2 linked regions of the Homo sapiens genome follow. The protein of the gene in region 1 interacts with the protein of each later gene in a pairwise test. Each region holds a gene or a part of one and is shown on either strand. Other genes may lie near its edges.

Region 1 (3,938 bases):
CCAAAAATCTCTTTCTGATTAAGAGAAACCACATTTGCCAAGTACAAATGAAGTCCTAAAAATTATCTTATATATAACTATATGTTACATTTATAGATACTTAAAAAATTGAATGAAAAATGGGTATTGATGAATTGCCTTGTGGTACAGCAGAGAGTCCTGGCTTGAGAGTTAAGAAATTTGTCTGCTGATTACTGTCTGAAAGTCAGAAGAATCATTTCCATTATCTGGGTCAACATTCAATCAGAAGAAATAGGGGTGATTTTAAAATGTATTCATTCAGTTTTGATTATTTATTACTTCCCTGATGGTTCATTTTTAAAAAGTGAATGATATGTTTGTTGGCCATTTGTATATCTTCTTTTGAGAATTGTCTATTCATGTCCTTAGCCCATTTTTTGATGGGATTGTTTGTTTATTTCTTGGTGATTTGTTTGGGTTCATTGCAGATTCTGGATATTAGTCCTTTGTTAGATGTATAGATTGTGAAGATTTTCTCCCACTCTATGGGTTGTCTGTTTACTCTGCTGACTGTTCCTTTTGCCGTGCAAAAGCTCCTTAGTTTAATTAGGTCCCAGCTATTTATCTTTGATTTTATTGCATTTGTTTTTGGCTTCTTCGTCATTAAATCCTTGCATAAGCCATTATCCTAAGTGAAGTAACTCAGGAGTGGAAAATCAAACATCATATGTTCTCACTTATAAGCGGGAGCTAAGCTATGAGGATGCAAAGGCATAAGAATGACACAATGGACTTTGGGGACTCAGGGGGAAAGGTGGGAAGGAGGTGAGGGATAAAAGGCTACAAATTGTGTGCAGTGTATACTGTTTGGGTGATGGGTGCACCAAAATCTCACAAATTACCACTAAAGAACTTATCCATGTAACCAAACACCACCTGTTCCCCAATAACGTATGGAAATAAAAAAAATTTAAAAAATAAAATGAATAAAACTAATTGCATGGAAAGACTAAATAAATAAATAAATAAATAAATAAATAAATAAAGTGAGCAGCATCAAGTACAATTCTGTGTCCTAGGATGTGAATTTAAAAGGGAGGTTTGTATGACTATTGCTGGATATCTGCTAATTGAGGGAGGACCAAGAAGAAAATGGTTGAGACTTAATATTCCTTTATCTGTTTTCCTTCCTATTTTCAAACAGTTCTGTAGTTCAGGAACCTTGTCTGTTGTAGCAGGGATAAAACCCACAAGAACATGGGTAAGTAGCACTTCCTCTTTTTCTATGATCAGAGGAGTAGAAATATATTATTCATAAACAGTAGGACAGTAAGTGTCCATGAATACAACTGAGACACTGAGTATCATTTAATGCACAAAATATTAGTTTTCTTAACGTGTTCAGATGGTAGGTCAGCAGATCACATACATTGTGAGGATGCATTCCTGGGATGCTTGCTCTTAATATTGGTGAACTTGAAGCTTAGAAAAAGTCTTCTTGATTTTTATGTGTTGTCAAGTTTGACCAATTCTAATTATTTGGAAGTAAGAACTCCCACCACTAACTAGTTTGACAACTGAAAGTCCAAACTTCTATTCTAAACAACTGCTAAGTCTCTATGATGTGTTCTTAGTGAGTCACGTAGCCACTGATACTCCACTTTCCTACTCCATTCATTCACTTTCCCTCCTCCATGGATAGCTATTTTACCATTTTATTGTATCCTCAAACACCAATCCCACTTCTGTCATCCTTACTCTCTGCTGATGATTTTTCTGTCTCTTCTGAGAAAACTGAAGCCATTAGAAGGGAATTTTCAGACCTCCACTACTAATGGACTAGATCTGTACCAATGTATTTTTTTCTTCTAGCCTCTTACCATAGGAAAATTTTGTGATTTTCTTTAAAGCTGATCTCCCTACTTGAGTATAAGATTCCATTCTTTTTTTCCCCACACAAGTGCATCACTTTAATTTTTGTCTCTCTGCTATATATATATTTTTCGAGTCTCACTCTGTCACCCAGATGGGAGTGCAGTGGTGTGGTCACAGCTCACTACAGCCTCCACCTTCCAGGGCTCATGCAATCCTCCCACCTCAGCCTCTCACATAGCTGGGACTACAGGTGTGTGCCACCATCCCTGGCTAATTTTTGTCTTTTTTTTTTTTTTTTTTGTAGAGACAGGATCTTGCCATGTTGCCCAGGCTGGTCTCAAAATCTTGGGCTCAAGCAGTCCTCCTGCCTCAGCCTCCCAAAAGGCTGGGGTTACAGGCGTGAGTTACCTTGCCCCATCTCTAATCAGCATGTAAACATCCAGTTACTGTTCTCAACTTAAAAACAAAACAAAACAAAACAAAACAAGAAAACCTTGACATTATTTCTCCCTGCTAGGGACAGGCACAATTTGTATTTTCCTTCTGTAGCTAAACTCCTTCAAAGGAATCATCATGTTCTTTCTCTGATTTCCATCTACCGGTTTGAATCAAACCCACTTCAATAAGACTTTATTTTATTCCCTACTATCCTTCTGTAACTGCTGTCTTTAAGATCACTGAAAACTTCCACCCTGCTAAAACAACGGTCAACTCTTGTTCCTCATCTAACTTAAGCTATGAGTAGCATTTAGCATAGTTAGTCGCCCACTCCTCCTTCCAGGAATTTCCTCACTTGGCTTCCAGCATACATTGCTTGGCTGGTTTTCCTCCCATCTTTTGCTTTCTCCATCTCAGTCTCCTTTCCTGGTTCCTCTCCTTGTCTCTGACCTTTTAATGTTCTGGTGCCCCAGAGCTGAATTCTTTGCCACCTGCTCTTCTCAATCTATACGTACTTCTTCTGTGATCTCACACATTCTTATGACTTCAAGTAATATCTGTATGCCCACAACCCTGAAATAAGTATTTCCAGCCCAGGTGTCTCTCCTGATCATCAGACTGGCATGTAAAGATCCAAAGCTCAACTCCCAGTCTTCTTCCTCAAACCTTCTCCTCATGTCAGCTGATGGGAATGTCATCCTTCCAGATTCCCAGACCAAACACCTTAGAATAACCAAGAGTCTTCTTTCTTTCACAATCCTGAATCCTATTTATCAGCAAATAATGTTGGCTCTACTTTCAAGCTATTATTATATCCAGTTTTGACCTTTTCTTATCTTTCTATTGATGACATTTCATCCAATCCACCTTGTCTCTCCTAATTGGGCTTCTAGCTTTTATCGTTGAACTTCTCTTTGCCTTGCTAGAAACAGTGATCCCTTGAAACCATAAAGCCAAGTATATCATTTATTTGCTCCAAATCCTTCATTGGCTTTGTATTTTTCTTAGAGTTAGAAACAAGTTCCTTTTCATGATCTGCAGAGCCCCACATGATTTGGCTCTCTGTTAACTTTCCTTCTTCTTCATTTCCTAGTATTGACTACGTGCCTCCAACGCCCTTGACCCCTTTGCTGCCCCAGAAGATTCTGGCCTCAGGATTTTGAGTGTTTCCCTAATTTCAAGGATATTCCCCCAGATATCCTCCTGGCTGGCACCCACAGCTCTTTCATGCCTCTCCCCAGTGTCATTTCTATTTAATATCATGAACCCCCACTCCTCTCTTTGGATTCCCAGATTCTCCTTATCCCATTCTGTTAGCCCCTAGTACTTAATCACTTTCAAAAATATTATGTAATTTACCTATAGTATGTTTACTTTTTTCTTTGTTTTTATTGCTAGAATATAAGCTCCATGGAGGGTGGGGGACAGAAATCTTTCTTTGGTCATTGATGTTAGCCTCGCATCTAGGATATCAGTGGGTGTGTAAACAATATTCAATCAATGTTTGTTTCAATGAATTGTTGCCAAAGGAATGAAGTACGTGCTGCATATATTAATTGAAAATTCTTATTCTTTTTTAGATACAGAACAGTTTTGGAATGAACATTGCCAGTGCTACAATTGCACTAGTGGGGACTGCTTTTCTCTCACTAAATATAGCAGTT
Region 2 (3,938 bases), about 65 Mb from region 1:
ATTTAGGATGTTGGTAAACACTTTGAAGTCCCTGGATGAATTCTTTTATATTCTGAAATCTGTTACCTGAAAGAGTTAATGAGAAGCTTTTGCATGGTCCTAGAAAGGCTCATTTTTGTTGTTGCTAAAATACATTTTATTACGGAGAATTTTAAACATACATAAAAATGCAATAGTATAATAAACTCCCATGTATCTAAGACCCAACCCCCAAAATCATCAATCCATTGCCATTTCAGGAGGGTTCATTTTCAAAATGAAAGGTGACTCTTTAAAGCTATCAGCGGAAGAGTCCCATGCCACGGGGCAGGGAAAATGACCATTTACCTGAGATACTAAAACACTAAAAGGATAGGTAACTTGCCCCAAAGCAGACAGTGGGCTGCCTGGCCTTACACTTGAGGCCCCAAAGATGTTGGTCTTTGCTGACAAAACCCTATAATTGGTGTTGGCTCTACCCACTTGTCCACTGACCCCTTCCAGAGCTCCACTCTCCCCAGATCCAAATGGTGGTGCTTAAATTTGGGCAGGAAAAAGCAATTTAATCTATAGACCTAATGGAGCAACACCACCAACCAAGTGGCTGACTGACTTCACAGAAACTTTGAAATCCCAGTACCTAGGAGAATCCAAAACAGCTGAAAGGCAATTGTGGCAGACAGAATAATGGCCCAAAGATATCCACATCCTAATCCCCAGAAATTGTGAATATGTTAGATTATATGTTAAAGGAGAATTAAGATTGCCAATCAGCTGCCCTTAAAACAAGGGGTATTAATCTGGATTATCCAATCCAGGTGGACCCAATCTAATCACAGGATCCTTCTAAGTTGAATAGGGAGGTGGGAGAGAGGGTCAGAGCAAGAGAGGTGAGGATGGAAGCATCAGTGAGGTGTGATGTCACTGGCTCTGAAGATGGAGGAAGGGGGCTGTCAGCCAAGGAATACGAGCAGCCTCTAGAAGCTGGAAAGGATAAGGAAATGGATTCTCCCCTAGAACTTCTGGAAAGGAATGCTGCCCTGCCAACCCCTTGGTTTTAGCCCAGTGAGACTGATGTTGGACTCTAACCTACAGAACTGTAAGATAATACATCTGTGTTGGGAGCCATTAGTTCACATAATTTGTTACAGCAGCAACAGAAAACTAACACAGCGGCCATACACAAAGTATCTCTCAGACCCGAGCCCTAGTAGGATCACTGAGGTCCAAAGACACCTCAGCTGCTCCAGAGATTACCCCAACAGTCAACTTACAACAAAGGTCAGTTTGATAAAACAGCTTTAACATAACTTTGACCTTGGCTCCGGTACTGAACAAGTCTCTTGCGGGCCACATGTTTGCTCGTTCGACACGTTTCACTTTTTAATTAGCCAATTAGCAGGCCTTGGGTGCAGAAGGCCCAGGCCATGTATTATTGATACAGCATTGAGCCAGGCTGCTGCAGAGGCCCGCTCTCAAAACCTGAAAATGAGAACTCCAATTCTGCCGGCCATGCTGACAAAAGTATTTTGCTCAAACCCCATTCTTGTCTCCTGGGTCTGAAACTCATATGACAGACAATCGAGGGATTGATTTCAAAAATGTGTTTGCTCTGTGCCCTTCTCCCGATGTTTACATCTGCAGCATCCAGAAATGTGGCAGCCCACATCACTCTCCCCCTTAAAAGACAAGGAAAGCAGCTGGGTGCGGTGGCTCACGTCTGTAATCCCAGCACTTTGGGAGGCTGAGGCGAGTGGATCACCTGAGGTCAGCAGTTTGAGACCAGCCTGGCCAACATGGTGAAACCCTATCTCTACCAAAAATACAAAAATTAGCTGGGTGTGGTGGCACATGCCTATAATCTCAGCTACTCGGGAGGCTGAGGCAGGAGAATTGCTTGAGTCCGGGAGACGGAGGTTGCAGTGTGCCGAGATCATGCCACTGCACTCCAGCCTGGCCGACAGAGCGAGACTGTCTCAAAAAAAAAAAAAAAAAAAAAGATAAGTGAGGTGTGAATTTGCCCCTGGCTCACACATGTGGTACCCACACCTCCAGAGTGTTTTCCAAATACTGACAACAAACTTGTGTCCATGGAAATAATTCCTTAAGTGTGTGTGGTAAAGTACTATTTCCCTTGGAGTTTAATTTCCTTCCTCTTGCCATAGTTAATCCTACAGTGTCAATTTTAGTTCAAAAGTTACACATATAATCTTGTGTACTGTTGTTGTCTAGTGTCAAAATGCTAACCCATGAGCTCTCTGGGACTGCCCTGAATATTCTGTTAAGTTCTCAACACTGAAGATTTTGAAGACGGACCTCAGCTTGAATCCCTGTTCTGCCTCTTGCTATGTGACCTTGGGCAAGTTACCTTAACCTCTGACAGACTCAGTGTTCTTACCTATAAAATGGGGATAATAATGGTACCTATGTCATACTACTTAGGGCTGTCCTGAGGTTTAAATGAGACAGTGCAAACAAAGTGTTTGGCACAGGACCTGGCACACGGAAATCCCTTAAAGAATGTTAGCTATTTTCATGACTATCACTTAAAACATCAAAATGAAGGTTGAGAGGAAAGCTGTGAGAAGGAGTAATGGGACAGAAAAGGTCAATGTCATTGTCAAGATCCCATGGGTCTGAGACCAGCCATGCATGGTAAAGCCATGGTAAAGAACTCCAGAGAAGGATTCTGAGAGAGATGATAAAAATCCATTTAAAGACATGGGTGCTGGCAGGTATGGTCCCAGGTATGAGGACCAAAGAACTCCCAGAAGACTGTTGGGAAAATTCTAGCACATGCAGTTGGAGAAGCATGTCCTCAGCACCCTCAGGGCACCACATCAATTTCAGCCCAGGATCTGCAGTTAGGAGCCCAGGCTGCCAGGAATGGGAACACTTCATCTCGGGTGCAGGCCTGTGACTATCCCTATTTCATTTTCTTTTTTTTCTGTCCCCATGGTACGAGGTGGCTTTCCAACAGGCTGTTTTCAACTTGATGCAAACTGAAGATGAGACCAAATCAGGCAAATAACTGCCTGGTGGGGTTGTAGATGGAATTCAGAGTAAGATTCTTTTCCTGAGTGAAGGGGCAGGGGAACTTAAAACTCCCTCTGAACTTTCCCCGTCATTGGTTGAACTTTACAATTCTGACATCTCAGGCAACCCGATGTCAGGGAACATCAAGGGCAGGACGGATGTGCAGACCAAGAGAAATAAGAATCACAGCTCAGGAGGCAAAACGAAAGCAACAGCTTTACCTTAACTTCCACTTCTGGGGCTGGGAATTCACCAGCTCGCGGGAAAAGCAACAGAACTGATGTGATGATCACAGCACCGAAGAATAAAAAAATGACAGAGAACCTGGGGTTAAAAAGACAAATTATTAAAAGCACTGTCTATAATTTCTTCTTTGATCAGTTAGGTCTGGACAGTCTCTTCCTTGGAGCCAATATTCTATGTTTCAGTCCCTTAACAATGTCCAGAGGCCTGCTGTCAACAACCTCTTCATCCCAAAGTCCTTCTTCCTAGACAGGTACCAGCTGGGTGCATTCCCATTTATTCTTGGTAATTCCCAATTCCTAAGAATGGAAATGTGTAGTTTTTATTTTTACTTCTGCCCAAAGTCATAATCAAGAAAAACCAAAGCATCCCCTCTCCACCTCCACTTCTGTTGTTTTTAGAACAGAATACTTTAGAAAATTCTACAACTCTCTGCTTCATACTAACACTGTCTTGCCAGAGTGCAACTCTAGTGTTTTCAGAGTCGGTTTATGGCCTAACCCTGTTCTGAAGGCAATGCCTGATATAGAAAGCAGGCCCAACTCATCAAATGTTGCTTTCGTTTTCCTGGGTCCAGGGCTAGAGCCTCGGGTACTGGACCAAGCCTCTGCCATAAATCTGAACAATTCATAAACACATACACATACAGCCTCAAGAAACTCAATAAGCAGTGAAAGCAG

What was found. Proteins that work in one complex are often made in the same cells at the same time.
Region 2: the proteins of MS4A3 (region 1) and TMEM218 interact in binary tests that used the Homo sapiens proteins (3 or more experiments, as listed by UniProt).

What each region holds. Positions count from the first base shown.
Region 1 is NC_000011.10:60,063,097-60,067,034, forward strand, and holds part of MS4A3 (membrane-spanning 4-domains subfamily A member 3), read left to right. Parts: intron 1-1,165; coding exon 1,166-1,222; intron 1,223-3,854; coding exon 3,855-3,938. UniProt on the Homo sapiens protein: Hematopoietic modulator for the G1-S cell cycle transition. Modulates the level of phosphorylation of cyclin-dependent kinase 2 (CDK2) through its direct binding to cyclin-dependent kinase inhibitor 3 (CDKN3/KAP).
Region 2 is NC_000011.10:125,097,965-125,101,902, forward strand, and holds part of TMEM218 (transmembrane protein 218), read right to left. Parts: intron 3,558-3,938; coding exon of another isoform or gene 3,480-3,557; intron 3,340-3,479; coding exon 3,237-3,339; intron 1-3,236. UniProt on the Homo sapiens protein: May be involved in ciliary biogenesis or function.